7 separate regions of the Homo sapiens genome follow, and all the other regions are linked to region 1. Evidence: fine-mapped expression QTL. A gene starts in region 1. Each other region holds a variant in brackets. All regions are shown on one strand. Distances are between the middles of the regions. Region 1 holds the start of ZFAT (zinc finger and AT-hook domain containing). Region 2 overlaps ZFAT (zinc finger and AT-hook domain containing). Region 3 overlaps ZFAT (zinc finger and AT-hook domain containing). Region 4 has its middle 96 kb from the start of NCRNA00250. Region 5 overlaps ZFAT (zinc finger and AT-hook domain containing). Region 6 has its middle 250 kb from the start of LINC03024. Region 7 overlaps LOC124902071.

Region 1 (4,402 bases):
GTGGCTGTCTTGGAACTGGCTCTCTTGGAGGCTCTCCTGGAGGCCTGGGGGGCAGTTTGGGTACATTTTAGATGTGGTGGGGAGAGGAACACTGGGCATGGAGAGGCGAGATCCACACCTGGCTCTTCACTATTTTGCTGTGTAATCTCAGAAAGCCATTTGACCACTCTGAACATTCCATTTTCTCATCTGGAAAAGGACAATAATCATATTGCCCAACTTAACCTTCCAGATTGCGAGGATGAAATGAAGAAGGGGGAGGCTATATCTGTGAGCATATATTTAACAGACTGGACAACTTTAGGGTCTTTTCATGGTTCCGTATTTCCCAAGAACAGGGTTAAGGAGCAGGCGGGCAGTCTCCTGAGAAATCAGATGAGTCATCCTGAAGCTCAATGCCCAAGGGAGTTTTCCTCCTAAAAAATAAGTGACCCCAGAACGAAGTGTTCATTCAGTAATATGACTATGCAACAGGCGCTGAGAAAACAAGATGAAAAGGACCTATAAGGGCTGCTCAGGAAGCTCAGTCTAGTGAGGATGAACGCTGTGCAAACAGAGAAGTGGGGGATGGAGCTAGGCCAGTGAGACCAGAGCTGTGGGAACATGAAGTGTGAACTTCAGGGCTGTCCGAGAATTTCATGTTGAGCAGCAACCAAAGAGGGTTATTCCAGGAAAAGAAGAACAGGCAAAGACTAGCATTTCAGGGGAACCATGAACACAAATCAGTTTCCCAAACTTCAGTCTCCTGAAGTCTGCTTTTACACTTTTTTTTTTTGGGGGGGGGGGGGCATGTCTTTGCAGCATGTACACCATTTTAAGTTGACTGATTTTTGAAAATGTAAACGAACAATTTAAAAACTTTATATGACTACTGTAAGTGAAAAACGTTATTTGTCATGAACAGAAAATGACCTTAGAACATGGACCACATCAACTCATTACTCATGAAATAAATAACTGTCAGGCTCAGTTTGTTTCTGAGGCTAACGGGGTGACCATTGACAGAGGTAAGGGAGGGAGATAATGACAGATAGGAATGGATGCTACGTAGAAAATATGAAGTGTCTTGGAGGGTTACTTTAGATGGGTTTCGGGGGGTGAGGGTTAGGGGCTGGAAGATATCATTTGAGCCGAGGACTACAGTGTTGGAGCTAAACACCTTAACATCAAAACCAAAAACAAAGTCATTAAATTTCCACCAGACTCAGCTGCCTGCCGAAGGCTGTGCCACAAGCAGAGAAATGAATGAGCGGGTGTTGGAGGCGCGCACATCCAGTGCAGACTTGTTGTGGGACAAAAAGAGACGAGAGAGGAGGAAGTCGCCTTGTCACGTGTGATCGTAGGCCGCTCAGTGCTCTGTAGCCCCTAAAACCCAGCCGGGTGGCCCAAAGGAAAGCACCCCACGCTTCGGGAAACGCCGCAGCTTTGAGCGGGATGCAGGTTGGGAGCACCCCGATGGACACATCAGTAAACTGAGAGCAAGAAAAGTTAATTCGCTGCCCCAAGTTAGGTAGTGAGAGGTAGAGCTGGGACACGAAGCGCACCCAGAACTCTCCTTGCACGCCCAGCTCGGCGGCCCCACATGCCGCGGGTCTAGGGTCGCGCTAGCAGAGGCCTGGCACAACCGCCAGACTCCTGACCCCGAGATCCGCGCTCCGGACCTCCCGAGGGCCCCTCCCTGGGCGTGGCTCAAAACGCGGCGCAGCGGAATCCGTGAAGTGGGATAAAAAGCACGGCCTCCGACTGCGAGCATGCGCGTTAGCTCGGCCCTGCCGGGCCGCGCTCGGCGCCGGGGGAGGGTCACCCGAAGCGGACGTCCGCTACGCAGGCGTCTGCGCCCCGTGGGGAGGAGGGCGAAGACTCCATCCGCCATGTTGGATGCCGCAGATTCGCCATAACCTCGCCGGCTCTTTTCTTAAAAAAATAAAAATAAAAAGCGAAGCGTCAGCAGGGCGCCCCGCCCCCTCGGTCGGCACGGGAGGGGGCCCGGAAGAGCCCGAGGCTTTTTTTTCCTCCGCGGTGGGGCGTTGCCATGGAGACGCGGGCGGCAGGTGAGCCGGGCTGGGGGTTGGGGTGAGACGGGGTGGGGGTGGGGCGCGGCGCGGCGCGCGGAAAGCCGTTTCGAGCGTCGAGTCGGGAAGCAGTGCGCCGGCCGCCGGCCGCCGGCCGCCGGCCGCGGAGGGATCCGGGTCTGGGGAGGAGAGCGAACGTAGTTGCGTTCTGCGGCTCACGTTCAGTCGCTGGGGTATCCCGCCGCAAAAAAAAAAAAAAAGCAAGGCGGGAGCGAGTGGGAGAGCATGCGCCCGGCCGTTTCCACGGCAATGGGTGGCGTTGGGGCGCGGGCCAGCGACGGAACGCAGTGGGCGCGAGGTTCGAATCCCGGCGATGCCAGCTCTTTGACTGGACCTTGGCGGGGCTTCCTTCTTGCCTGGCCTCGGATTCCTCCTTGGCGAAATGAGTACCTCCTGCAGGCTTCCCGGCCGCCGGCTGGACCTAATAGAGTGACAGATCTTCCACTTGACACCCGGTGCAAGTCATTTAACCTTGAGCTTGGGGTCCTTCACCTGTAATTACCACAAGCTTCCACATTTGGGCACTGACTTAACACGTTTTGCTGCTCAGCTCTCTTGAGAACTCTAATTTGTAGGTCATTTATTATGAGGAACAGAAGTTCAGAGAGGTCAACTTTACACAGTTTAAAAACGACAGAGCTGGGGCTTTAAAAATTAACTTCCTCCAACTTGGGCTAAAATCCAAACTCCTGCGTGCTCGCCTGACTTGTACCTCCATCTTCTTAGAATAGGGCTTGGCTCATGTAAGTGTTCACTATATACTTAGTGAATGAAAGAACGAACGCGCTAACTGATCACGCCTGCCCATCAGTCTGGCTTTTTTTGCTGGAGTCCAAGTGACCTTTTGGAGATGCCCCGCACAGCTGCCTCTCACCAGCTTTATCTTCCGAGCCTACCAGTTCATCTACTGAAACATCTGTAGTGTGTGTCCCCATGCTGAAGGAAGTAGCGTGTCCTACCTCTAACCCCCAGGGACACCTTTCCTGACTTTAGTTCAAATAACAGCTTTGCAAGGATCCCCTCTGCACGCCAGGCAGGGGTAAAGAGCAGTCCCAGTCGTAGTCCTGCCTCCACCTGCTGCGGTGCTAGATGTGGGAGAATGTGTCCTGGAGTGACAGAGTGGGCCCAGAGCCGAATATTGGGTCAGGAGACCCGAACTATATCAGGCGTGCTTTTTTTTAATTTAATTTTTTTAATTTTTTGGGACAGAGTCCCGCACTATCACTCAGGCCGGGGTGCAATGGTGCAATCTCGGGTCACTGCAACCTCTGCCTCCCGCCCTCAGGTAAACCTCCCGCCTCAGCCTGCCAAGTAGCTGTGACCACAGGTGCGCTGATTAGCTGTGGTGCCCAGCTGATTCAGGTGTGCTGTCTTAGGTTAGCCTAAAATGAGCACCGGAGAGACTTGCTCTCCAAATACAGGTTGAGCATCCCTAATCCAAAAATCCGAAATCGGAAATGCTCCAAAGTCTGAAACTTTGAGCACTGACATGAGGCCACAGTGGAAAATTTTCTATCTGACCTCGTGAAGGTTCTCAGCAGAAATGCAGTTCCATAGCCGGGCGCAGTAGCTCACGCCTGTAATCCCAGCACTCTGGGAGTCTGAGGCGGGAGGGTCCCTTGAGTCCAGGAGTTCAAGACCAGCCTGGGCAGTGTAGTGAAACCCCATCTCTATTTTTCTCAAAAAACAAAACAAAACAACAGTTGCACAACTGTAAAGACGATGCTGTTAACACTCAGAAAGAAATGCAGGCTGAACAGCAGACTTAAAGCCAGCCGTTGTTTATTGTTCTGTTGTTTAGCAGCTGATGCATGTGTTCTGGTGATGCTGCTGTGCCGCTTAGGTACCTTGAACACCTTGTTTTTCACTGTATTAATGGTGTGTCATATTTTTTACTGGTAAGGACTTATGTGTAAATAAATGTAAGAAAGTGATTGTCTTATTGGTAGCATAGAAATTCAGAGTCGGGAATGATGGCGATGCCAGACAACCACAGATTGCCCATATGTGTGGCTGAGATAGTGACACCTTTGCTTTCTGATGGTTCATTGTACACTTTGTTTCATGATCAAAATTAAAAATATTGTAAAATTACCTTCAGACTGTGTGTATAAGGTGCACATCAAACATAAATAAATTTCATGTTTAGACTTGGGTCCCATCCTCAGGTTATCTCACTATGTATATGCAAATATTCCAAAATCCAAAAACATCTGGAATTCTAAAACTTCTGGTCCCAAGCATTTTGGATATGGGATCCTGAAACTGTAGTTTATTTGGGAATAATAGGGGATTGCAATTTAGATACATGCGCTATGCTGGATCATAGG
Region 2 (4,402 bases), 55 kb after region 1:
CTCAGGTCGTTACCTCCCTGCTAATTCACGGAGAAAGTCTTTCTGTGAACCCAGGGAGGGGCTTGCTCCTGGGACTCCAGTGCCTTCCAAGAGCTCCACCTTCATGCCAGCAAGGCTGGGTTGGCCTATTGCCTTTCCTCATTTCCTCTTTCTGGTAGGAGAGTTTTACTGTAAAGAGGAGAGAAATGGGTTGGGGGAGTGGGGATCAGGAGTTGTTTTCATTTTAAGATGGGAGAATAAGAGTATGCTTATAGGCCAATGGAAAGATCTAGTACAGAGGGAAGAATTGATGACCTGGAGAACAATCATCAGAGAGGGTGAGTTCTGCACGCACAAGCCATCATGCACCCTTTGTCTAGTAGCCTTCTCACACAGGGATGTGGGAGCATCTTCCTGGGTGCAGGCAATCAGGCATGCGCTATCTTTAGAGAATTTGAAAGTAATGATCACACAAGTGAAGTGTTGGTCTGCTTTTAGTATCTCCATGAACCAGCAATTCCAGACAATATCAGAGATATGATAGCCCTGCTCTGGGGTGGGCCACTGCTCTCACCCGCACACCTTGTGTCCCCCTCACTATGCCCACCTTCAAACCAGCAGGAGCGAGGTGGGGAGACAGCTGAAGACGCAGGCGGGCTGGAAGGGGTGGCAGAGGCAGTTGTTTTCTGGCTGCTTGCAGTGAGATATGAAGCAAGGTCAGCTGTTGAGAGTGAGGAGCGAGGAGGATGAGATACTTGCTCACCATCACCAGAGAGCGCAGAGCTTGTATGATTGCCATGTATTTGTCCAGCATCACCAGGCAGTAAATGGCGTAGAAGTTGCATGTGACTTCCAGGCAGCGTTGAGCCTCCCCAGGAGGCTGGTGAGGGGGATGCCGAAGGGAGCCAGGTGTGGATTGCCAGCCGTCCAGCTGCTGGGCGAGGGCACACCATGGGTGCAGAGTTGCGCCGAGTCAGTGTTGTGCTTTCTGAGTGTCTGCTGGGTTCTTGCTGCTGAATAGGCAAGTTCCATCCCCAAAGTTCCTATGGATTCCAGCAACTGACAGATGACTGCTTCTCTGAGGTCCTCAGCTTTCCAGCATTTAGGGACGAGTTGGGAATTTAACCTGGGCCTTTTGGCTCCAAAGCCATTGTCCTTTTCAGTGGACAAAGCCACTTCCTTTCAGTCTGAATGTAAAAATAATAATACAAAGATCTGGCTTTTAATTGTTATTGAATCCTGAATTTAATATTTTGTATATACCTATAATTATTTTATCAGTCTAAAAAGTGAGTGTTTTATTTCCCTTATTATGTCTTCCTGCCTAGTATAATGAGATGAACATAATGAACTATTGGTAAATTTTTTGAACAATGAGAGTGCTTTAAATAGGAATTCAGTGGCTTTAAAAAGGCAACAAATTCCTGCCGTTTCATTGAAAGGTGCTGGGCTGTTGAGAAATGCTATTGTGGTCAACTTTTCCTTGTGCGTAATTTGAGAGAATCTAGCAAGACTGCTTAATTGCCATCAGTGTGCAGTTCAGTCATTTGAGGGGTAGGATTTAGTTTTTTAAGTTGCAAATTTTTTTTTTTTTGGAGACAGAATCTCGCTCTGTCGCCCAGGCTGGAGTGCAGTGGCGTGATCTCGGCTCACTGCAAGCTTCACCTCCCGGGTTCACGCCATCCTCCTGCCTCAGCCTCCCGAGTAGCTGGGCCTACAGGTGCACGCTGCCATGCCTGGCTAATTTTTTGTATTTTTAGTAGAGACGAGATTTCACCATGTTAGCCAGGATGGTCTCGATCTCCTGACCTTGTGCTCCGCCCGCCTCGGCCTCCCAAAGTGCTGGGATTACAGGCGTGCGCCACCGCGCCCGGCCGCATATTTATTTTTTACTTGGCTGTACTTATCCCAGAATCTGGGCTGATGAGTAGATTTGGGTAACAAGAAGGTTTGTATTAGACACTATCCAGAAGGACTGAGGGTTGAGATACTGAATAAAGAACTTTCTGGCCCCTGGATCTCCCTGAAGATGAAAGTGAGTGGCCTGCCATGGAGGTGACTGCCAGAGAGACACAATCTGGTAGAGGCTGGTGATGGCTCAGAAGGGCAGCTTTCGGTATTGTCTTTGGCAATTGGAAGTAATAATTGTTTATGTGGAGATGAAATAACATATTTTCCTTTTTTTTCCTTACAGAAAACACGGCCATCTTTATGTGTAAATGTTGTAACCTCTTCTCACCAAATCAGTCGGAACTCCTCTCCCACGTTTCAGAGAAGCACATGGAAGAAGGGGTTAATGTTGATGAGATTATTATTCCCCTTAGGCCTCTGAGTACACCTGAACCCCCCAACTCAAGCAAAACC[G/A]GAGATGGTAAGGGGGCTGGGGGGTGGGGCAGGATACCTTCTGACACACCTGTTGATGTTGATTTGCTCCGTGGGCATAGCAGAAGCCTAGAAAATCCACATTTCCAAATCAGAAGTCACAATAAGTCTCCAATTGTAGATATGCTCAAATAAGATTGTGCCTTTGAAATCCCATACCTAGCCCCCTGTAGGTTGGCAAATGAATGAATGAAAGAATGAATGGAAGTGGCAGTATTCAATAGTGTGAAAAACATGAGCTTGTTGTCAGACAAGTGTGGGTTTAACCCAGCCCTAGTACCTACTGGCTGCATTACCTGAAGCCAATGATGTTACTTCTCCAAGCCTCACTTTGCTTATCTGGACAAATGATGAGAAATATGCTGGTTACAAGGGGGTCTGTGAGGATGAAGTTAAAGAATATGCCTACAGGACCTAAGATGATGCCTGGCACACAGAACATGATAAAAGGAAGCTGTTGTTCTAACGTACATGATTAATAAATAAGTCTATATAATCTTACAGCATTTTCCAACTGTTCCTATAAACCTGGAACAAGGATTCACATTGCAAAGCTTTGATTTGCACAGAATCCTTTGGGTTCACAGTCAGCGTGCAAAGTGAGATGCATCTTGTCTGTAGTGTCTGGACATCTGTCACTGTGTGGTTATCCGATGCAGCAGGTGCACGGATCAGAGAAACCATCCAGGCACTGTAATTAGGTCCCCACAGACAGAGAAAACATATAGCACATGAGGAACCGCTGCAAAGATCCTCACAAAACACTAAGATAAAGGACAGCAGCTGGGCACCTGTGCAGAAGCCCAATGCATAGCAGTCAGTGTCCCATTGCAGAGTTCATCAGCCACACTAATAATCCACTGGCTCTTTCCTGGGAATATTCAGGCTGGCATTTCTAAATAGGCTGGCTATTCATCATCTGTCGGACACCATTAACAAGGAGAGATTCCAGACAAAAAATGTTTTGGTTAATAAGTCCCTCTGGTCATTCCCAGGGTTCTCAGAGAAACATGCCTGACAGAAGATTAAGTTTTTGGGAAGTTAGGAAGTTCTGAGAGTTACTGTTAGTGGCATAAAGTGAAAAATGAAAAAGATGCAGCACCCGAAGCTAGTGGTGGGTGAATAAGGAGCAGCAGTTAGTATTTCTTACTTCTGTCATCACCGTCAGCTAATAGGGTGTGTGTCCATGGCGTGCTCAGCCCCTCACAGGCCTTGTGAGCAGACCTGTCCTCTCCCCATTTAGAGGAAGCAGGAGTGAGGAGGAAAGTTATGTGTAATTGCGTCTCAACCAGTAGCGCACACTTGAGACCCTTTGCTTTGGGGTAGAGGAGGAAAGTTTGCATGGGACAGTGAGAGTCAGAACCTCCTTGGTGCCAGGGGCCTTGCAGTTCAGCGCCCTCCCTCTGCCCACCCAGCCTGTGTGAGTCCTGACCCCTGGCCAGAAGCTTTGTGACACCCACACTCTCCATGGCCCACTTCCCTGCTGAGCAGTCAGTGACTTGCTTTCTGAAGAGTATAGCTTCACAGAGAGGGCTTTAGTCAAGAACTGTGTTTAGTCACCTCCGCCTTTTGGGCTCAAGCATTCCTCTCACCTCAGCCACCTGAGCAGCTGTGACTACAGGTGCCCGCCACCACACCCAGCTAAGTTTTGTATTTTTTGTAGAGACAGGGTTTCATCTGGGTACCTGCCTCTGGGGTTGAATGTATATGGACTCAGAAAAATGGATAATGTCTCTTGTCCAATTCATATGGCAGATCGAAGCCATGTGGATCAAGGTGGAAAGAACTTCTAGACTGGCTCTTGCAAAGCTTTTAGTTCTTTGCTTATTAAGATTCTCTTCTTTCTAAATGAGTTGTAGATAAGAGAGAAATTTTAATTTTTATTTTTTTCATTTTCTTTTTGAGACTGAGTCTCACTCTGTTGCCCAGGCTCGAATGCAGTGGCGTGATCTTGGCTCACTGCCACCTCCACCTTTTGGGCTCAAGCGTTCCTCTCACCTCAGCCACCTGAGTAGCTGTGACTACAGGCACCCGCCACCAC
Region 3 (4,402 bases), 210 kb after region 1:
TGATCCCGGGCCTCTGCCAACTTTAATTGTATGAAACTCCTAATTATACATGCAGGTAGCCTCTTAAAAGTGTTCTCATACTTGGCATTCCTTATATAATGTTCTTTCTGTTGTTGCGGAATGGTGATCTTTAGCATGTAGATTCAGAAACAAAAAGTTCATTCAGAGTCTTGGCAATAGGTTACTCTCCCTTGTCACTTAATGCCAGCTCTTGTCCTTTGTAGGCCTTTCCTAGTTCTCCTGTGGTTGTTTGAACCTTTTCTTTTTCTTTGTCTTAACTAAAACTTTTTTCAGAGACTTCTGCTTCTGGTATGACTTTGGATGGCTGCTACTCCACATTGCATCCTTTCCCAAAGCTCTTTTGTTACTTGCTGAGCTCTCTTACACCATAGTAGTTACAGAAAATTCCATTTCTTTGTGAAATTTTTAAAGTAAAAATAGGCCCCATGATATATCTGTGGCCATATGAGAAATGGTCTGAAAACATAGAGAACAAAGGTTATTCTCTGTTTCATTATGGTGCCTTTTTCCCATGCAAGCCATCCTTAGCTAACCTGAGTATGCTCATCTATCCAACTTCACTTTTCTTCCTTTTCCTAAGTCCCCATCTTTCTGTTATTATGCCCCAAGAAGCTACAGCCTTGGTTGGTGCTATTTGCAGAATCCCACTTTATTTGAGTTTTAATACTGCTGAGTTTATTACTGTTTGCTTGGTGCCTGTTTCCTGACCCATGTCCTTAGCCAAGGCAGGTCGGTTTTAATTGACATCTCCCCTCCAGGCAGCTTCACCCTGGGAAGTTGTCCTTGCTGGCTGAGATCACTTGGTCTATTTCAAGTTTGGGGTCAAGGCCAGGCTGTAATAGCCCTGACGGGAGTGAGGCAGAGCTGTCCCGCATATGGAGGAGAGCGCTGCGGGCCCTCTGTAGACTTGTCCTGCCTCAGGCTGGCCCTTGTTTTTCATTCCCACCAGAACAGTAGTCTCCATCCTGGCCGGAGGGATTCCCGGAAACAAGAACTCTTAGTGTCCCCCTCCTTCCTACTCCTCCTATCCATCTGGTGTCCCCAGCTGGTGGAGGGCCTCTTGCCTCCTTGCCTCTCCCACCGGACGTCTGCCCTGTCAGCACATGTGGTGGCCTCCTGCTTCACAAGGGGCCTCAAATGTCCCTCTGGCCCCCGGCCTTACCGCCTTCAGTTAAGCCCTTGCTACTCAAAACGTAGTCCCCCGGCCAGCAGTGTCAGCATCAGGGGGCTTGTGAGAAATGCAGAGTCGCTGGCTCCACCGCACCCCTCCCAAATCAGGCTCTGTGTGTAACCAGCAACGGGGGCATCACGGCTCCACCCCGACCCTCCCAAATCAGGCTCTGTGTGTAACCAGCAGCGGGGGCATCCCAGCTCCACCCCGACCCTACCAAATCAGGCTCTGTGTGTAACCAGCAACGGGGGCATCCCAGCTCCATGCCAACCCTACCAAATCAGGCTCTGTGTGTAACCAGCAACGGGGGCATCCCAGCTCCGTGCCAACCCTACCAAATCACGCTCTGTGTGTAACCAGCAACGGGGGCATCCCAGCTCCACCACAACCCTCCCAAATCAGGCTCTGTGTGTAACCAGCAGCTGGGGCATCCCAGCTCCACCCCGACCCTACCAAATCAGGCTCTGTGTGTAACCAGCAACGGGGGCATCCCAGCTCCACCCCGACCCTACCAAATCAGGCTCTGTGTGTAACCAGCAACGGGGGCATCCCAGCTCCACCCCAACCCTCCCAAATCAGGCTCTGTGTGTAACCAGCAGCAGGGGCATCCCAGCTCCACGCCAACCCTACCAAATCAGGCTCTGTGTGTAACCAGCAACGGGGGCATCCCAGCTCCACCCCGACCCTACCAAATCAGGCTCTGTGTGTAACCAGCAACGGGGGCATCCCAGCTCCACCCCGACCCTACCAAATCAGGCTCTGTGTGTAACCAGCAACGGGGGCATCCCAGCTCCACCCCGACCCTACCAAATCAGGCTCTGTGTGTAACCAGCAACGGGGGCATCCCAGTTCCACCCCAACCCTACCAAATCAGGCTGTGTGTGTAACCAGCAACGGGGGCATCCCAGCTCCACCCCGACCCTACCAAATCAGGCTCTGTGTGTAACCAGCAACGGGGGGCATCCCAGCTCCACCCCGACCCTACCAAATCAGGCTCTGTGTGTAACCAGCAACGGGGGCATCCCAGCTCCACCCCAACCCTACCAAATCAGGCTGTGTGTGTAACCAGCAACGGGGGCATCCCAGCTCCACCCCAACCCTACCAAATCAGGCTCTGTGTGTAACCAGCAACGGGGGCATCCCAGCTCCACCCCGACCCTACCAAATCAGGCTCTGTGTGTAACCAGCAACGGGGGCATCCCAGCTCCACCCCGACCCTACCAAATCAGGCTCTGTGTGTAACCAGCAACGGGGGCATCCCAGTTCCACCCCAACCCTACCAAATCAGGCTCTGTGTGTAACCAGCAACGGGGGCATCCCAGCTCCACCCCGACCCTACCAAATCAGGCTCTGTGTGTAACCAGCAACGGGGGCATCCCAGTTCCACCCCAACCCTACCAAATCAGGCTGTGTGTGTAACCAGCAACGGGGGCATCCCAGCTCCACCCCAACCCTACAAAATCAGGCTCTGTGTGTAACCAGCAGCAGGGGCATCACGGCTCCACCCCAA[C/G]CCTACCAAATCAGGCTCTGTGTGTAACCAGCAACGGGGGCATCCCAGCTCCACCCCAACCCTACCAAATCAGGCTCTGTGTGTAACCAGCAACGGGGGCATCCCAGCTCCACCCCAGCCCTACCAAATCAGGCTCTGTGTGTAACCAGCAACGGGGGCATCCCAGCTCCACCACAACCCTCCCAAATCAGGCTCTGTGTGTAACCAGCAGCAGGGGCATCACGGCTCCACCCCAACCCTACCAAATCAGGCCCTGTGTGTAACCAGCAGCGGGGGCATCCTGGCTCCACCCCAACCCTACCAAATCAGGCTCTGTGTGTAACCAGCAGCAGGGGCATCACGGCTCCACCCCAACCCTACCAAATCAGGCTCTGTGTGTAACCAGCAGCTGGGGCATCCCGGCTCCACCCCAACCCTACCAAATCAGGCTCTGTGTGTAACCAGCTGCTGGGGCATCCCGGCTCCACCCCAACCCTACCAAATCAGGCTCTGTGTGTAACCAGCAGCAGGGGCATCACGGCTCCACCCCAACCCTACCAAATCAGGCTGTGTGTGTAACCAGCAGCGGGGGCATCCTGGCTCCACCCCAACCCTACCAAATCAGGCTCTGTGTGTAACCAGCAGCAGGGGCATCACGGCTCCACCCCAACCCTACGAAATCAGGCTCTGTGTGTAACCAGCAGCTGGGGCATCCCGGCTCCACCCCAACCCTACCAAATCGGCTCTGTGTGTAACCAGCAGCTGGGGCATCCCGGCTCCACCCCAACCCTACCAAATCAGGCTCTGTGTGTAACCAGCAGCAGGGGCATCACGGCTCCACCCCAACCCTACCAAATCAGGCTCTGTGTGTAACCAGCAGCAGGGGCATCCTGCACATTAGAATTTTAGAAGCCTGTTCTCAGCTGTCAGTCCCCCTCCTCTGGCTCACAGAGGATGCTGTTCTCTTTCCATCCTGCTGCTCTGAGATGCAGTTTTCACATAGAAGCCAGGGCGATCTTTTAGAAGTATCATTACATCACAGCAACCCTTACTTTAAAATCCTCCAATAACTCAGAACGTCTCCAGTAAACTTAGAATAGAAGCTCTCCATCGCCCACCAGGCCTGACAGCAAGGTGCCCACCTCTTTCCCTCCACTTTCCTTCTTGCTTCATGGTGGGATGTTTCAAGAAGACCTACCCCGCCCGTGCTGACTGTGGGAGGCGCAAGATCCGGGAGCAGCTGCCTCTGCATAAAAGCAAACACTCCAAGAAGGAGCACGACCTATGGGGGCGGGGGTCCCTGCATGTCAGGATAACCCCTGCCCGTTAGGACACATCAGGTTAGACCCGGTGGTCAGCTTCAGCTGTTGGATTGTCAGGTCCTTCCTGCCCTGAGGGGGCAATTAGGAAGGGAATATTTTCAGAGGGGCAGAAGCTCTCCTCCCTCTCCAGGCAGTGGTGAAGATGGGGCCACGGGGAGGAGTACCCTCCCTCACCCCGTCACAGTTCTTAGGAACTGTGTCACAAACCATATCTAGTGTGGTTGGTTATACACATGGCTTTTCCCCCCAGCAAACTGGAAGCTCCATGAGAGCAGGTGACAATTTGGTCTCACCCATCTCTGGGATCTCTAGCACTTGGCTCAGGGCCTGGTACATTTTAGAGGCTTCATACGCATTCAAAACCGTGAATTCCAGATCAGATGTTGGGAAGCTGAGCTA
Region 4 (4,402 bases), 220 kb before region 1:
CTGCTGACAGCGACACCTGGCAAGCTACCACTCCCGAGTTTTCTCATCCCCAGGCTAAATGTGCCTCAGAGTCTTGAGCCTCTCCTGACCCCACAATCACCCCAAGGAACGACTCCCCACTTTATAGTGACCCCACCCAAACATAATACTCCACAAAAGGTTGAGCGGCCCAAGGCCCTCAGCGCAAGACTTTCCTCTCCTCTGCAGACCACCTTCGTCTCTGCACGTGCCTGGGACAAGACTTATATTTCTGACAGCACCATCACTTCACTGCCTGTGGTCCAGGATAGAGCTGCAAGGAAGAGGCTCCGGAGCAGCCTGCTAAAGCTAACAAAATGGTTCCTGTGTATGGAGGAAGCTGCTGCCCCACAGACATGTGACAGAAAAATTAATCTTTTTACAGATGAGTAGACAAAGGCCTGCAGAGAGATGTGTCATCTCAAGAATGGGGTGTGGAATTGATTGTAGAGAGAAGGGGTCCCCCAGAGGGATAAATAGTGAGCTGTCGTTGTTCATGCTCTGTAGTTTGAAAACAGCTAAACCTCCAGAAACAGAAAGACAAGATTAGAGAAAAATGTGTCACTGGAGGTTTTCTTTTTTTCTTCTATTTTAGACAACTTTATTGGGGTATGATTGACATACAAAAGCTGTACATAATTAATGTATACAACCTGATAAGTTGTATTTTTGTTTTGTTTTTTTGAGACAGGGCCTTGCTATGTTGCCTAGGCTGGTCTTGAACTCCTGGATTCAAGCAATCCTCTTGCCCTGGCCTCCCAAAGTGCTGGGATTACAGTTGTGAGCCACCCTGATGACTTTAGATTAAGTATACACTCGCGAAATCATCACCACAGTCAATTCCATAAACATACGCATCATCTCCAAGAGTGTCCTCCTGCTCCCTTTATTTTTTTTACTTGTGTCTTTCTTTTGTAGTAACTGGTAATCCCATTTCTAGATCTATATACCCAGCAATTGAAATAAGGGTCTCAAAGAACTATCAGCACTCTCATGTTTATTGCAGCGTTATTCTCAATAGCCAATACATAGAAATAACCAAAGTGTCCACAGGAAGACGAATGAATAAAGAAAATGTGCTATATACATTCAGTGGAATGTTATTCAGTCATTAAAAATAAGAAAATCTTGCCAGTGGTGAGAACAGGGATGGAGCTGGAGGACATTATGCTAAGTGAAATAAGCCAGACATAGAAGGATAAATACTACTGGAGGTTTTCATGAGATCTGGTTTGGTGACAGGGCAGGGTAATGAATGGAGAAGTAGTTTTGACTCAAAAGACTTACCTTTAGGTCCTATAAAATCCACGGAAATAACCTTAATTTCTTCAAGCTGAAATTTCTTTCTCCATAGTGGCAGACTGAATTGGATCCAGTTCTTCAGACCCCAGTACAAGTACTCTGCATTCACCCTCCCTAGCCATGCCTTTGCTTTGACTCGGCCATGTGCCCTGCCTTAGGGAACGGAATGTTAGCTGTCATGACAGGAGGGGAGAATTGAGATGAGATTGGGCTGCCATTGAGCCTACTTCTGTGCTCTGGTGATCTGCCTTGACCTGAGCTTCCCTGAGGTGCAGTATCTATTCCTTCAGCCCAGGACCCAGAACTGAGTTCAACCTGCAGGCTGGAGCAAGGCTCAGCCAGTCCCACAGAGCCACCCTACGGAGCCTAGCCAAGATCAGCCTATCCACAGTCAATCAGAAAACCCATGAACAAAGGGAATAAATACTCATTGTTTTATACTAGTGGGAGTCTATGGCTGATTTCTACACAGCGAAAAAGACTGAATACTGGTGAAATGAGGGCAGCATCAATTCTGATGAACTCTTTGCATCATGCTCTGAATCAGAAGTCATGGTAGTAGACAGAGTCTCTTGCACATTATAACACATGACAAATGTAAGGTGTTTATTTATTGTTATTGGGTAAATAAACCAAATGTGTCTCAAATGGAGTGAAAAGAAGAATGTGATTAAATGTAAACAAAAAAGTAAAGTATATTATTTAATTTGTCACTTCAGTCTTTTTACAAAGATCTGCTCATACCCCTTCTCTACTTAAAACTCTCTGTTACTTACAAGCTGTCATAGACACCTTGTCAGGCACTGGTGGCTTTTAATGTGGCTTCATCATGCCTCTCCCACCTTC[T/A]ATTTGGCCTCTCACTCACCCCACATATGGCTCACTGTATATTCCGAGAGCCAAAATTGGACTAAAACATGACCCCCTAAATACCTCAAAACCTTTTACCCTCTGTGAGTTTGGACAAGGCATTGCTATTTCCCAAGTGCCGCCTCCTCTATGAAGCTGCTTCTGCCTTCCTTAGGCAGAGTCAGCCACTCTCTCCTCTAGCTCTCACAGTTCATAATCCTTTGAGCATGTATCCCGTGCTGTGGTAGGCTGCTGCCTAGTAACCCTTCAAGGAACTATTTCTTCCAGAATCCATGCCCTCATAGAGTCCCTTCCCACTAATAGATTATAACAAAATTGTCATTGTAACCTTTCTAGGGCTAGCCCGTAATTTAGCCTGGCAACTTCTGCTTCCTCCCTCTCAGAAGTTTCTTCTAGAAACCCAGCCACCATGTCATGAGGCAGCCCAAGCAGCCACGTCAAGAAGGCTACATGAATGAGAACTGTGGCCCCTGCCTGACAACTCCAGCTAGGCTCTGGTCAAGCCTCTCAACGATTCCAGCCTTCTAGACACCCCCAAAGTTCCAGCCCCAACTGAGCTCCCAGTTGAGTTTCCACATGAGGGAAGCCTTCTCAGCACCCCAGCAAGGCAACGTGAAGAAGAAAAGTTGCCCAATAAACCCAGAAAATCATGAATAGTAATATGCCACTAATTGTTTTAAGCCACTAAATGTGAGGGTGGTTTGTGATGCAACCAAAGATGACTGAAACACCTCTATCTGTCAGGGCTCTCAGTTGCGAACAACAGAATTGATTCAGTCTTTTATTAAAGGAAACTTAGACAATGAAAGAATTTCTGAGAGGGCCCTAAAATCATGCCTGAAGGCTATATATCCAGTAACAAAATCTTATTTACTGCACTGATGGCTCTGATGGAGTCCCAGTGTTGCTGGCCTAACATGGTCACCTTGACTAACACCATGTTTACTACAGTCAAGAGGTCCACCCCTTAACCTGAATGTCTCTTCATCATCATCACTAGAATGGATTTCAAGTTTTGTCTGCTTCTTTATGTCCCACTTTTAAATCCAAGTTTGATGTCATTCCTTCTGAGGAATAGAAACTGGGCCATGTACTATATCCTACCTTTAAAGGAACCATGAAAAGTGAGTATATTAGTTTGCTATTGCTACCCTAATAATACACTTGGTGGCTTACATGGCAAAAATCTATTTTCTTTCAGTCTCAACGTCAGAAGTGTCAATGGGCTAAAAATCAAGATATTGAGCAGTCTGTGTTCCTTCTGGAAGCCCTAAGGGAGAACCCATTACTTGCCTTTTCCAGCTTCTAGAGGCTGCCTGCATTCCTTGGCTCATGGTCCCCTTCACATCATTCTGACCTCTGCTTCCATCCTTATGTCGTCTCCTCTGAATATGCTTCTCTTGCTTCCCTCTGCTTATAAGGACCCTTGTGATTGCTTTGGGCCCTCCAAGATAATCCAAGATAATCCTCCATCTTGATATCACTAACTTAATCAAATCTTTAAAGTCTTCTCTGCCATGCAAGTTGACATTTGATAGGTTCTGGGGATTAGGACCTGCACATCTTTGGGTGGCCATTATTTTACCCAACATAGTGAGTTTCTGAATTTAATCTTAGAAAGATAGAATTCAAAAAGTAGAAAATTCTTCAAAAATGGAAAACAAAATCAGCGACTTTACTAGTGCTGCTTACACATATGTTATGTTTCTGTTTCTTTCTGGTTACATAGGATATTGCACATTCTTGTCCCTATTGAAAAGAGTCATGCCCATGCAACTTGCTTTGGCCATTGAAAAACAAGCAGAAATGGATGACAGTCTTACTTTTAGCAGTGCAAAGCTCATCATGCTCTTTGTCTTTCCTGTCATAGTCACTGGCGAACAGCAGCCTCTCTACCAACCTGAGTCCCAGAGTAAGGCAGAACCCCTAGATGACCTATGATGGACATGCAACATTGATGAGAAATAAATTTTGTTGTGTTAAGCTACTAAGATTTGGGGGCCTAAATTAGCTCATCCCAGTGTTCAAAATATTCAGGACAGCCTAAAGCAGGTTTACTACACACTATTTTGTAATTGTATGCTTCCAAGTATGTCTCTAAGAATGTTTATCCACTGGTCACAATGGAGCTATCTTGGTCAAGATCCAGCAACAATTAATGAATTCAAAGGTCAAACTAAAATCCTCTCAATGCAACTTGGTATATCCTCCCATA
Region 5 (4,402 bases), 220 kb after region 1:
TATTTGGAGATGGGTTCTTTGGGAGATGATTAGGTCGTGTGAGTGGAGCCCCATGAATGCGATGAGTGCCTTAATAAGAGAGGAGAGAGCTTGATCTCTCTCTTTCCACCATGTCAGAACACAATTACAGGTCAATAATCTGCCCTTGGAAGAGGGGCCCGCACTGTAACCTAACCATGCTGGCTCCCTGATCTCAGACTTCTAGCCGCCAGAACTATGGGAGATAGATTTCTGTTGTTTATAAGTCACTCAACCTGTGCTGCTTTGTGACAGCAGCCTGAGCTGAGACCAGGCTGCTTTGGAATTGCAGATGCTGAGGGACATTGCCCAAAGTCAGGGGAGCTGGGCAGGTGGTGGTTCTGTGTGAGAGAGACTTAAGACCAGGCCAAAAGAGAGTCGAATTAAGTAGAATTAAGTAGATCTTCCTACTCTGAGAGAGAAGTACGTGGGTCATGTGGATTTGAAGAGCAGGAGCTGGTGTCTTTCTGGGGTTTCAGCATAAGATCGGAGACTGTCATGTCAACACCAGTAGGGTGAATGTCAAAGCTTCACTGGTGCTCAAAACAAGAAGAGATAGTTTCTTTTTCTGTTCTTAGATGTACTTGCTACTAATGAACTTACCTCGATAAGTTTGATGAGTGATTTAAATGGTTTATGTTTTGTTATGATAAACATATTTTAAACAAAAAATAAAAACACTTTATTCCTGGGAGTTTGGTTTTTCTACCTTGGGCAAGGGCTGTTGCTCTGTGGTTATCCAGGGAGGAATACGACCTGGGTCCTGCCAGCTCCGTTTTCCTTCACTGCTCGGTTACCAGCAAGGCCCTGGTGGGGTTCCGTGGAGGCTTCAGGTCACTCATGTTCAAGTACTGGGAAAGAAACTGCTAGTGGAAGCAGATTGCTTAATTAGGGGGAGAAGAGTGTGCGTCAGCTGAGGAAAGGAGCCAGGCGCTTCCCCAGCAGGCACCGAGACAGTGTCCTCGAGATGGCCCACTAAAGGGCAGCGGATCGATCCTGTCCCCGCAGCTTTATCGAGCACCTGCTGCCCTTCAGGCTGACAAAGCCACCAGCAAAGAGAAAGGCCGGGGCCTGCAAGGATGGTCACGGGGGTGATTTTGTGAAAGTCAGGCAGGTGGAAATGTACAAAGGAAACTACTCCTAAAGTACAGTGGAGGGGACTTGGGTGAGAAAAAGCTGAAAGGTTTGCCCAACCCCAACAGCCGCACAGCTGTGCAGGGATCACCAGGCAGGGGTGTGGAGGGAGGAGAATGTGTAGGGAAGAGAGTGCTCCCTGTGTGAGGACCGGGCAATGCTGTAGAGCTGCCACGCCAGGCCTGGCACTAAATCAAATAGAGATTCAGTGTATGTGCACTTAAAGGGGAAGAAAGTCAAGTATTATGCACAATAAATGTGTCTAAATATCAAAAGATATTTGTGAGGAGGGGGGAACTCTGCCTGCCTCCTTCCCTTTCTTAGTGAATCTGCTCTGAACTGTTTTAGCACAGCTTTGAAATATCTCCTGGGGTCCACATTTGAATAATTCAATTCAGTGTTTATTGAGTGCCTACTATAAGCTGGGTGCCATATGGCCATGGCATGATGGTGTGGAGGGGATATGTGAAGCACACGGGCAGCAGCTTAAGTGCATGGGAGCTTGGCTCAGCCGGGGAGGGAAGGGGGCAGCAGACC[G/C]TTCCTCCAAGGAGGGCCGGCATCCAGAAGCAGTCATGAGTGCCGTGCCTCACGCACCTGCCCTGTGCCAGGCACTGCCCCCTGCCCCGCCGTCTCTTCATTCCCATGCACTCTCTCTACCATGTGGAGCTCTCTAGTTTCCCACAATTTACGAGAGAAGGTTTCCTTTTCTAGTCAAATGATTATTCAGATCAAACTAAGCAATGCCTAGACTGCCGAGACATGCAAGAGGTACAAGATGTTCTAGTCATGGGCATCCTCTTTCTGTTGCCCAGTGAGTTGGTTTGGCCAGTATGGAAACCTTTTCATCCTCTTCTTACAGCACTGAGGCCAGGAAGCCTGCATTGCTCCTCTCAGCCTGTTTCGAAGGCCCTTCTCTCTCAATGAAGAGAGCTGGCCCTTCCCGTTCCCCTCAGGCCCAGGGACCTGGTGGACAAGTCCGTGTTGCAGGTGGCAGCAGAGCTCTCCAGTGCCTGGGGCTTAGGAAACAGGGTTGCAGCTGTGTTGGCCGGTAGTGGAGTCTCAGTGTTGCAGAGACCCAGGTGACACAGGAAATGGGTGGTGACTGCCATTAGCAGGTGGCCTTTACAGCTTAGGCTTTGCACTGTGCATGGGATTGATACCTTCGGGAAAGAAAATATGTCTGCTGTCTACTTACAACCAAGACAAAAAATAGGGTGGAGAGGCAGCATTATACTGTCTTCCTCCATGAAAGGTGTCTAGCCTGACAGTGGGATGAATCATGGCCTTCCTCACTTCCTGTGCATTCTTTCCTCCCTAAAAGGCTTTAAATCTCCGTTGATGTATGGAATGGCTTCTTCCTGCCTGTGAATATCTCCTGATATTTCCACAAGTTTCTTGCACATATTGCCCCCTCAGAACACCCTTCTTTTTGTCCTGTGCAGGTATATATTTCTGGAGTTAGGAATTTATGATGTTTTTTACAAACCACATTCATTTATGCATTTTCTTTCCTCTATAAATTCAGGATTGTGTTTGCTGTTTCCCTTTGTTTCTGACTTATACAACTCCACTCTTCACCTAGGGTTGTGAAAGCAAATGTCCTTACTTGTTAACCTTGTAAAATGGTCCTGCCAGTCCCCCTTTTGAGAATGAAAAGGAAGCTATTGCTTGGTTATAATTTAAGCAGTGAGTGAAGCCCTAATCCCTGGAAAAAATAAGGCTTCTTCCCCAGAGCTTAAACACACACAGGGGAATATTCTACCTGTAAGAATCGACTGCAGGTAGATTCTTTTTTCATTCTTGTTGTTAGGTTGTATTTGGACTTTTGTCTGCAGTCCTCTAATTCTTACCATAACATGGAGTCTACGAATTTCTGAGTGGAAGGGACCATAGAAGATGTTGGCCATTTGGGAGGAAATAATGAATTGCACGCTTTCCTTTGATCTCGAGGTATGGAAGCATCTGAGAAACAAGACATGAGTGAATCAGATGGTAATGAGAACAACAGGAGAGGAAGAGGAATTGGAGACCAGTTGAGCCATCTAGTCACATGCAGGGCTGGGCAACAGCAGGGCAGCTCTTCCTAGGAGGGCAGTTGCTTGCCGTAGCACGTGGAGTCTCAGCCCGATGGACCCAGGACTCCCCTTGAATAATGACTACCTTATAACACTCCTTTTACTCACCTGAAATGAAATTCATAGATTCCTACACATGCATGACTGAAAAAAAAAACAAAAAACAAAAACAAAAACAAAAAAACTCTAGTGTCCTAACTGAAATAACAAGAAGTAAATGGAAAGTTATTAATTATAAAATAAAAAATTGAGTATTTTAATATTCAGACATGACTATACCAAGATACAGTGGTTGGCAGGACAGTGGTGCCCCAGAGATGTCCACGTCCTCATCCACAGAACCTACAAATATGTTAAGTTTTACATGGCAAGCGGGAATTAAGGTTGCTAATTAGCTGAATCCAAGATGGGGAGATTATCCTGGATTATGCACATGGGCTCAGTGTGATCACACGTGTCCTTAAATGGGGAAGAGGAAGGCAGTAGGGTCAGAACCAGAGAGATGACATCGTAAGAAAGACTCCACCAAATGTCGTTGGCTTTGAAGATGGAAGCAGGCCACAAGCCAAGGAATGCAGGGGTCTCTAGAAGCTGGAAAAGCCAAGAAAGTGGATTCTCTCTTAAAGTCTCCAGCCGGGATCACAGCCCTGCTGAAATGTTGATTTTAGCTCAGTGAGACCCATTTCAAACTTCTGAACTCTAGAACTGAAAAATGATACATTTGTGTTGTTTTAAGCTGCTAAATTTCTAGTAATTGGTTAAAGCAACAATAAGAAAATGAAATAAAAACCTAACAATGTGGTCAGGTGCCTTCTCCTAAGCGTAGTGTCCACTCTGGGTGCACCAGCCACAAGCACAGGCCAAGAGCACATTGTGACTTGAGGGTGAGACTACTAGTGTGAGCAGCATCGCTGATGCCGGAGGGCTTTCGTAGAGCAAATGAAGTACAGTCTTCCCTTGCTGGAAACAGAAGTTGTATTTCTAGAAGAATGCAGCACACAGACTCAGTACTCTGTGTTTACATGTGAAACAGTTAGGTTCTAGGTTCAGATCATCATAAATAAGGTTGTTGTTATTGTTTATTTTTATCCTTGTGACTGTTTGGGAGAAAAATTTAGAAGTCATGGTGAGAACAGAACAATTCTTGGTTGTGAGGGACATTCTGATGCATTGTT
Region 6 (4,402 bases), 780 kb after region 1:
TTTAAAATTGTCAAAGCCATAAAAAAAAAAACAGCAAAAAAATCTAAGAAATTATCACAGCCATAGGTGTCTAAGCAGACATGAAGACTAAACATGATGTGGTATCCTGAGTGGGATTCTGAAACAGATAAAAGATATTGGATTTGGGACCAGTCTAGACAACATGGCGAGACCCCATCTAAAATACAAAAATTAGCCAGACGTGTTGGCAGGTGCCTGTAATCCCAGCTATTCAGGAGGCGGAGGCAGGAGAATCACTTGAATCGGGGAGGCAGAGATTGCAGTGAGCTGAGACCATGCCGCTGCACTCCAGCCTGGGTGATGGAGCAAGACATTGTCTCAAAAATTAAAAAAAAAGATATTGGAAAAAACTAAGAAAATCTCAATAAAGTAAGGACTTTAGTTAATAATAATGCATCAGTATTTGATTCACTAGCTGTGGTGAATGTGCCACAGTAATATAAGATGCTAACCATAGGGGAAACTGAGTGAAGAATACATAGGAACTTTCTGCATTATCTTTACAGCTTGTCTGGAAATCTAAGGCTACCGTAAAATAAAAATTTATTTAAATATAAACTATAAAACTTCTAGAAGATAAATTAAAATATACATAACCTCGGGGTAGTGACGGTTTCTTACACAGAACACAAAAATAAGAAAACCTTATAAAAAAAGATTGCTAAGAGTTGGACTATATTAAAATTAGGAACTTCTGTTCATCAAAAGATGCCATTAAATGAGTAAATAGAAAGCCACAGGGTGGGAACAAGATGTTTTCAATAAATATTATCTATAAAGAATTTGTGTCCAGGATAATGCTCTCTGTCTTTTCTCTCTCTCTCTCTCTCTCTCTCTCTCTCTCTCCCTCCTATAAATCAATAAAAATCAGAGAACAAACACAATTGGACGAATAAAAAACAAAAGCACTAAACAATGCATAATCAATGAATATGAAAATGTGTTCAATGTCACTAGTAATCAAGAAAATGCAAATTAAACCCACTGAGATAACAATATATCTGACCAGAATGGCTAAAATTAGAAAAACTGAAAATACAAAGAATGTGTAGCACTGGAATTCAATACTCTGATAGTGGGTGTGAAAATTGATACAACCGTTTTTGAAAAACTGTTAGGCCATATCTACTAAAGCTGGATATAAACATACCCACATACTCTATGGCTTAGCAATGCCACTCCTGAGTCTATATCCAGCAGATGCATAGGCATATATGCACTAAAGAAGTGCAAAGTGTTCATAGCAGCAAGTCCTGGACTAGGGTGAGGTCAGCAAGGCACCTAGGGTGCACAATTGAAATAGGCTGTCATTCTCAGGATCATGTAAGTGCTGATCCTGCACTTTGCAGAGCCTTGAGGGTGCTTGGTTCTTTAAATTTTGTTCCCTAGGTGCCTCCCTTGCCTCACACTAGTCCTGACCCCAATAGCAGCATGTTTTATATCAGCTGAAGTGGACGCTGTTAAAAATGACCCCCGGATGTCATCTGCTTTCCTGTTGCAGTGGCCACTGTCAATGGCTTGTACCTGCAACCTCCTCAGAGCACTGCCCTGAGCAATTGGGACTGCCTTCCCCAAAACTTCCTAAGAGGTAAATTCATATGCACCACCTTGGGTGGCCCGGAGCCAGGACTGACCACTGGAGAAAGCAAAAGCCTCACTCTCTTTCCTTAAGGCAGGCCAGATTCCGTGGTGGAATTTATGCTCCAGAGCTTCCTACAGGATCAGACTGGGGCTGGGCTTTACCTGAACCCACATTTACCCTTAGCTTCTCCCCTAGCCACAGAACTTTCCCCATCCTGCTTCCTTCACCTCATTACTGGTTTCTTCTAAAAACGGCTTCTCAGTGAATCACTTGTACAGGAATTCCTGTCTTAAGTTATGCTTCTAGGAAACACGACCTATGACAAGCCCCAAACTGGTAGCCACCCACATGTCTGTCATAAGAAATGGATCAACAAATGATGTTATGTCCATACAATGGGAAACAAAACACCCATGGAAATGAGTTAAACTTTGTTACATACAACCACATAATAAAGTACATAGTCATGTCATTAGGGAAAAACACTAGGTATAATAAGTGGATACCATATTATAACCTAATACACAGTTTATAAACCAGCATAATTAATCTGGAGCAAGAGAAGCAAGGACTGTGGTTGCCTCTGGGAAGAGGGAGTAGCAGGTCACAGCCTAAGAAGAGTTTATGGGATTCCAGGATTGTTCTATTTCTTAATCTGGTTAGAGGTTAGATGGGTGTGAGTGGAATTCAGGTAACATTCTTGTAATATTAACGAGGTCAATGGAGAGAAATAAATTTTATAAAGGTTTTATAAAACAGACTATAGATGGTCCCCAACTTATGATGTTTTGACTTGACTTTTTTTACATTATCATGACACAAAAGTGATATGCATTCACTAGAAACCACATTTTGAATTTTGATCTTTTCCTGTGCTAGCATTACTCTGCCATGATGCTGTAGCAAGCCACAGCTCCCAGTCAGCCACAGGATCAGAGCGGTAAACAGTGTTTAGTGTTTTCACATCCCATCATGTCTACAAAATGCCCATCTGTATCTCCTGCTTCTGGTGAGAAGAAAAGAAAGGCAATTACTCTTGAGATGAAACTCAAGATAATTGCCTGGCATAAAGGCAGCAAGCCAGTAATGACCAGTGCAAGAGGAGTTAGGACTTTCACAATCCACTATCT[C/T]GGCCGTCTTAAAGGAAAAGAAGTAAATCAGTAATGCGTGAAATTGTCAGCATTGGTTAAATCCATCATCACCATGAAGAAAAGAGCTGAGCAGATTTATGATATGAAAAAATTACTTGTCATGTGGACAGAAGACCAGATACAGAAGTCCACACCACTTATTCTCCTAATGGTCCAGACTAAGGCAAGAAGTGTTTTCAATACACTAAAAGAGAGTTTCAGTGACCTCATGTACACAACATGCTTATAGCAAGGCACGGGCAGTTCCAATCCTTCGTAAGTCATTTTAATTTTTATAACGTGAAGGTCAGTAGTGAGGCAGCAAGTGCCAATACTGAAGGTGTTGAAGCTCTTAAGAAAGGGCTGCAGAGGGTAATTGTGAATTAGAAATATTTGCTGAAACAAATATTTAATGTCAATAAAACAAGCTTGTTCTGGAAGCATATGCTGGAGAGTACATACACTCATCAAAAGTCCAAACAATGCCAGGATCAAGGCATTCAAGAACTGTGTAATGCTGCTTTGGGATGGAAGTATTGCAAGGTGCAAATAAAAGACTTTCCTAATCTACCATGGGGAACCCTAGAGCATTCACAAACGTGAGCAAGTATGCATTTCCCTTTATTAGCTCTATAACAAGAAACCCTGGGTGACATCTGCATTGTTTGAAGACTGGTTTTGAACAGTTTTATTCCACAGGCAAGAGAATATTGTAGGCAAAACAACATCTCATTCGAGATTCTTCTGATCTTAGACAATACTCCAGGGCATCCACAGCATATTGGGGACATGCATCCTGCTGTGAAAGTTGTGCATTTGCCACCACACATACACAACCGCACTGATTCAACCAACAAACCAAGGCACAATAGCTGTGTTTAAAGCACACTACTTATGCCAAACGTTTGTGCAGGCTGTTGAAGTGACTGAATCTGGCTGTATCTGAAGTTTACTGAATCTGAGTTTTAGGAAGGTTTTAACATCCTAAATACTGTCCAGAATATCACTGCAGTATGGGAAGAAGTCACACAGCAATGAATAAATGGCTTTTGAAAGACAGTTTTGAAAACATATGTGAACACATTCAAAGGCTTTAACAAAAATTCTGCTGTGGATGAAATTAGTAAAACAAACACAAGATATTACTGCTTGGGAACTGCTAGAGTTGGACAATGATGAAGAGGATACTCACGAGCTTGTTGGCATTGAGGCTGGAGAGCTTTCCAATGATGACCTGGAAGACTGAACTGGAAAAAAAAAATGTAAAGAAGTTGAGGCAGAGGGAGGAGAAGTTATACCTGAGGCACCAAGAATGTTAACAGCAAAGAAACTGGCCAAAGTATTTGCTACTATCAGAAGTGGTGTATGGAATTTAGAAGAAATAGTCAATTGTAAGAGATTCACAGGAGCCGACCAGCAGAAACAGGATGGTCATGCTTGCTATAGGGAAATATATAACAAAAAGAAAAAATCTATGCAGTCAAAATTTGATATCCTTTTGAAGAACACTATACAGTGTTGGTGTCTCAGTGCCTTTACCTGCCAATCTCTCGCCCAGGGGTCCCCAACCCCTGCACAGTAGGAGATGAGCAGTGGGTGAGTGGGCAAAGCTTCATTTGTATTTACAGCCACTCCCCATCACTTGCATTACCACTGGAGCTCCACCTCC
Region 7 (4,402 bases), 47 kb before region 1:
CTTTGGCCAATGGAGTGTTGTAAGATGGGCCACAAACAAAGGCCTTAAACGTATTTGAGAAGTTTGGCTTGGCCTCTTGTGGTCCTGTGGAAAGCACACATTTGCACACACACACACACACACACACACACACATACAGAGAGAAAGAGAGAGAGAACTGAATAGCTGCTGGTCCAGAAAAAATGTGAAGACATGAGGAGGGGATCTGGCCCTAATATGAACCTTGAATCAAGTTTAGCCAACCTGCGACCTGAAGTGGAGCTCCCCAAAAGATCATGGGCTGATAAATGAGAAAAATAAGTGCATATTGTTGTGACTTATTGTTGAAAAATAAGTGGTTATTGTTGTGACTTATTGTTGAAAAATAAGTGCTTATTGTTGTGATTAATTAATTTATTTTATTTTACTTTTTTTTTTTGAAACGGAGTCTCGCTTTGTCGCCAGGCTGGAGTGCAGTGGCACGATCTCGGCTCACTGCAACCTACACCTCCCAGGTTCAAGCGATTCTCCTGCCTCAGCCTCCCAAGTAGCTGGGACTACAGGCATTTGCCACCATGCCTAGTTAATTTTTGTATTTTTAGTAGAGACGGGGTTTCACCATGTTGGCCAGGATGATCTCGATCTCTTGATCTCGTGATTTGCCGGCTTCAGCATCCCAAAGTGCTGGAATTACAGGTGTGAGCCACCATGCCTGGCCTGTTGTGATTTATTGCACAGAAAATCCAGATTGGGCTAAGCTCCCCTACTATGTGTTTCCATAGCCCTCATTCTTCCACTGTCATAACTCTAGATGCATGTATCACAAATGCTTGCTCTGTCTTCCCTCCCATCATACCCTCAGTCCTTTGAAGGTCTTGGTTGTGCCTGTATCATTCATAGTTGTATCCTCAGTGCCTCATGCAGTGCTCAGCCCACAGTAGGGGCTCAATAGATATTTGTGGAGTGGAAAGGATAAAGTACAATGATTTGAGCTTGAGAAACACCAATCAGCAGGGCTTTCTGTACATACCAGGCTCTTTGTCTCACTATGGAGAGTTGTGTGCATTGTTGACATCTGCTATAGGCAGTTTGTCTCCTCTAAGATAAAAGACCAGGAAAGACTATAACATGTGATCCCTTCCGGTGTCTGCTCATCCATACTATCAAAATCCTAACCATCCTTTAAGACCAAGCTCAATTCCCAGCTTACTTAGGAAAGAAGCCTCTCCTGGATCCCAGATCCAGCTGGAATTTTTCCCCTTAGTATTTACAGCAGTTAGCACCTGTCTTGTAACTTTGAGCAGATGTTTATTTAAAATTCTCGTATGTTCTCATTGTAATCCCATCCCCCTCCTTCCTTCACCAATTAGACTGCTTTTTGAAAAGTATCCCTGGAACCTAGCCCAATGCTGCACACATAAAACATCTCAATAAATGTTTGTTAATGAATAGTTACTGAATAAATCAATGAATGGATACTTTCATTCACACCTTTATTCCTCCCAGCATTTAGTACTGCTTTGCACATTGTGGGTACTTGAGAAATCTGCACACTCACACCCCCACTCACCCGCCACTCCTGCAACTTCTCCAATATATGGGAGAGGACTGACAATTTTATCTAGTCTTCTGGGTGATTCCTGAGTGATTCTCCAACAGAGAACAGATAGAAATGAGGTAAGTGTGGTCCTCTCTCATTCTAATCCCTTGTAATCTGGGCCTGCCAATAGAATTGTTGTGTTTACCAAATCAATGGTCTGGTTCTGACTTTCTTCCCTATGGATGTTCTTTAGCATTTTGCATTGCTTATAATCCATGGGAAGATGTTTGTTTGTTTGTTTTTTGTTTGTTTTTTTTTTTTTTTCTTTTTGAGACGGAGTCTCCCTCTGTTGCCCAGGCTGGAGTGCAGTGGCATGATCTCGGTTCACTGCAAGCTCCGCCTCCTGGGTTCATGCCATTCTTCTGCCTCAGCCTCCCGGGTAGCTGGGACTGCAGGTGCCCGTCACTGCGCCCAGCTAATTTTTTGTATTTTTAGTAGAGACGGGGTTTCACCGTGGTCTCAATCTCCTGACCTTGTGATCCGCCCGCCTTGGCCTCCCAAAGTGCTGGGATTACAGGCATGAGCCACCGCACCCGGCCTCTGTTTGTTTTTTTTTTTTTTTTTTTTGAGACGGAGTCCTGCTCTGTTGCCCAGTCTGGAGTGCAGTGGCATGATCTTGGCTCACTGCAACCTCCATCTCCCAGGTTCAAGCAATTCTCCTACCTCAGTCTCCCGAGTAGCTGGAATTACAGGTGCCTGCCATCACATCCAGCTAATTTTTGTATTTTTAGTAGAAGTTTCACCATGTTGGCCAGGCTAGTCTCAAACCCCTGACCTCAGG[TG/G]ATCTACTTGCCTCAGCCGCCCAAATTTCAGGGATTATAGGCATAAGCCATCGCGCCCAGCTGGGAAGTTATTTTAAAAATTCAATTCTAAGTATGAATTCAGTTGTAGAGTTTCCTGAAACTCTTCAGTTTGTTTCTTGATTTTTTTTTTCCTAAATGAATAATTATGTTCTTTGCCTATGGTCATATACTAAACCACAACTCTCTTTCAATACCACCATCCTCCCTCCACCAAAGGTTTGATTTGCTATAAACTATCAATATTGAATTGGCAATTTACTACTGTTCAGAATTTTGATGTCCCAGATAATAGGAATCTTGGGGTTCCAGGCCTTTCAGTGGTGGAAGAAGAGGTAACCTGGGATTTACATCAAGGTAGCTGCCTATTCATGGGGGTCCCAAATCTACCTGGCTCAGTAGGAAGAATGTTGGCCCAGAATGAGGCCTGACCCTTCTCTCACTTAATGATTTCTGAGTCCCTCTTGCTGGATCTGCAAAATGAAAATTCGACTTACCTCCCAGGTCCGTTGTGAGGGTCAAATAAGAACCTGTGTAAGTTTTCATAAACTTTATAGTGCTATACAAATATATAGCATTGGTAAAGCCATCTCCTCTATTGATGAGTCCTGCCTCGTGTCTGAATTCTAGCATTCAAAATTTATACCTTTCCCTAAAGAAAGACTTTCATGAGTTTTGATAGACAATGCTGTTTGTCACTCCAATAGTCAGTCCCTTCTCCCTTGCTAACATGACTGCTTTTATTTGGGGCAGTGATGGGCTGTGGATCATGGATCCTGGATCCATCATGATTCATGGCACATCATTGCCCCAAAGGTGGAGCACCACATCACTGGTTCCCTGAGGTGGAGCACCCACCTTGAGGTGGACCACCACATCATGCTTTTATTTGGGGCAGTGATGTGCCACGGATCAGGATGGATCATGATCAGTATCAGTCAAAGGAATCCTTGATGGAACATTTGCTCTCCCAGCACTCCCATGCAACAAAGGGTGGTCTTGTAACCCAACCCTGGCCAATGAGATATAAGAACACATTCGCTGATAAGTTGCCAGAGACAAGTTGTCTCCTAGTAGGAGGAAAACCAGCTTTTCCATTCCATGTCTTTCTTTTCTTTCTGTCTTGAACATGGTTATATGTAGACACAATGGCCAGGGCCATGAAAAGCCATTTTGCAAACATGAGGCAACAAGCCTAGGGACAACAAGCTTAGGCAATAAGCCTCCTCTACCTTCCCCAAAACAGAACCAAAGATTGGAGCCAGTAAAGCAAGATGCTTAGTGCTGACTCTTAAACTAAGCACAGAGAGGTTAAGTAATTTGCCCAACATCACACAGCTAGTAGGAGGTAAAGTGGAGAGTTGAACCCAAGTGTTTTATTCCCAAATGACTGTTTTGTTTTGTTTTGTTTTTTTCCACTGTATCTTTTTTCTTACCTGTAGTCCTGGTCTCTTCCTGCACTCACCCTGGGTGATCATACCCAGGATCATGCTTTCTAGCAAAGAACTCCAAATCTACATTCCTAGCCCCAGGCTAATAAGAGCCAATCCCCCTCACATTTCTGCTGGATGGTCTCAGGCTGTCTTACTAGTACATCAAGCTCCTATGTCTAAAACTGAACTCATTTATCCTTGCAACTTCAATACTTTTTCCTTCTCTTGATTTAGTTCATTTGAGTTCGTGGAATCTCAAGTCTGCTAGTCATCACATGGTGTTGAGGACAGAATATAGGTTTTGAAATCAGAAGATTTGACTTCAGATTGATCAGCAGTCAGTTGCAGAATCATTGAAAGGGTTGAAGAAATCGATCTCTGTTGAGCTTGCAGGCACAATAACCAAAGCCACAATGCCGATCTGAATTGCCAAGAGAGCTGTTCCCCTCTCTGGTCCCCTCGGGACCATGACTGTACTAGGGAGAGAAACCAGCATCACCAGGAGGCAGCCACTGCCACTGGCAGCTCCAGCCCCAGGACATATCTGCTACAATTCACCCCAGCAAAACAGGATGGGATGTCTGCCACTT

Evidence for each region. PIP is the estimated chance that this variant, and not a neighbour inherited with it, causes the effect.
Region 2: its variant is fine-mapped to the expression of ZFAT in whole blood (TOPMed, PIP 0.94).
Region 3: its variant is fine-mapped to the expression of ZFAT in transverse colon (GTEx, PIP above 0.99). The same link has a PIP of 0.9 or more in esophagus muscle, lung, prostate and subcutaneous fat.
Region 4: its variant is fine-mapped to the expression of ZFAT in whole blood (INTERVAL, PIP above 0.99).
Region 5: its variant is fine-mapped to the expression of ZFAT in sigmoid colon (GTEx, PIP above 0.99).
Region 6: its variant is fine-mapped to the expression of ZFAT in gastroesophageal junction (GTEx, PIP above 0.99).
Region 7: its variant is fine-mapped to the expression of ZFAT in whole blood (TOPMed, PIP 0.95).

What each region holds. Positions count from the first base shown.
Region 1 is chr8:134,710,494-134,714,895 of GRCh38, reverse strand. It overlaps ZFAT (zinc finger and AT-hook domain containing), which reads left to right and starts at 1,865. Exons shown (of 16, transcript NM_020863.4): 1 at 1,865-2,051. The coding sequence starts at 2,033. RefSeq lists an enhancer at 1,854-2,033.
Region 2 is chr8:134,655,509-134,659,910 of GRCh38, reverse strand. ZFAT (zinc finger and AT-hook domain containing) reads left to right here. Exons shown (of 16, transcript NM_020863.4): 2 at 2,174-2,350. Among named protein-coding and RNA genes, the nearest start is that of ZFAT, 55 kb to the left of the region's middle. The variant G/A (reference allele first, on the strand shown) is at 2,344.
Region 3 is chr8:134,496,560-134,500,961 of GRCh38, reverse strand. The region is part of intron 15 of ZFAT (zinc finger and AT-hook domain containing); the gene reads left to right. Among named protein-coding and RNA genes, the nearest start is that of ZFAT, 210 kb to the left of the region's middle. RefSeq lists an enhancer at 1-454. The variant C/G (reference allele first, on the strand shown) is at 2,703.
Region 4 is chr8:134,931,795-134,936,196 of GRCh38, reverse strand. No RefSeq gene overlaps it. Among named protein-coding and RNA genes, the nearest start is that of NCRNA00250, 96 kb to the right of the region's middle. The variant T/A (reference allele first, on the strand shown) is at 2,167.
Region 5 is chr8:134,491,014-134,495,415 of GRCh38, reverse strand. The region is part of intron 15 of ZFAT (zinc finger and AT-hook domain containing); the gene reads left to right. Among named protein-coding and RNA genes, the nearest start is that of ZFAT, 220 kb to the left of the region's middle. The variant G/C (reference allele first, on the strand shown) is at 1,690.
Region 6 is chr8:133,927,964-133,932,365 of GRCh38, reverse strand. No RefSeq gene overlaps it. Among named protein-coding and RNA genes, the nearest start is that of LINC03024, 250 kb to the right of the region's middle. The variant C/T (reference allele first, on the strand shown) is at 2,734.
Region 7 is chr8:134,757,715-134,762,116 of GRCh38, reverse strand. All of the region lies in intron 2 of LOC124902071, which reads right to left. It also overlaps a transcript of ZFAT not described here. Among named protein-coding and RNA genes, the nearest start is that of MIR30B, 41 kb to the left of the region's middle. The variant TG/G (reference allele first, on the strand shown) is at 2,361.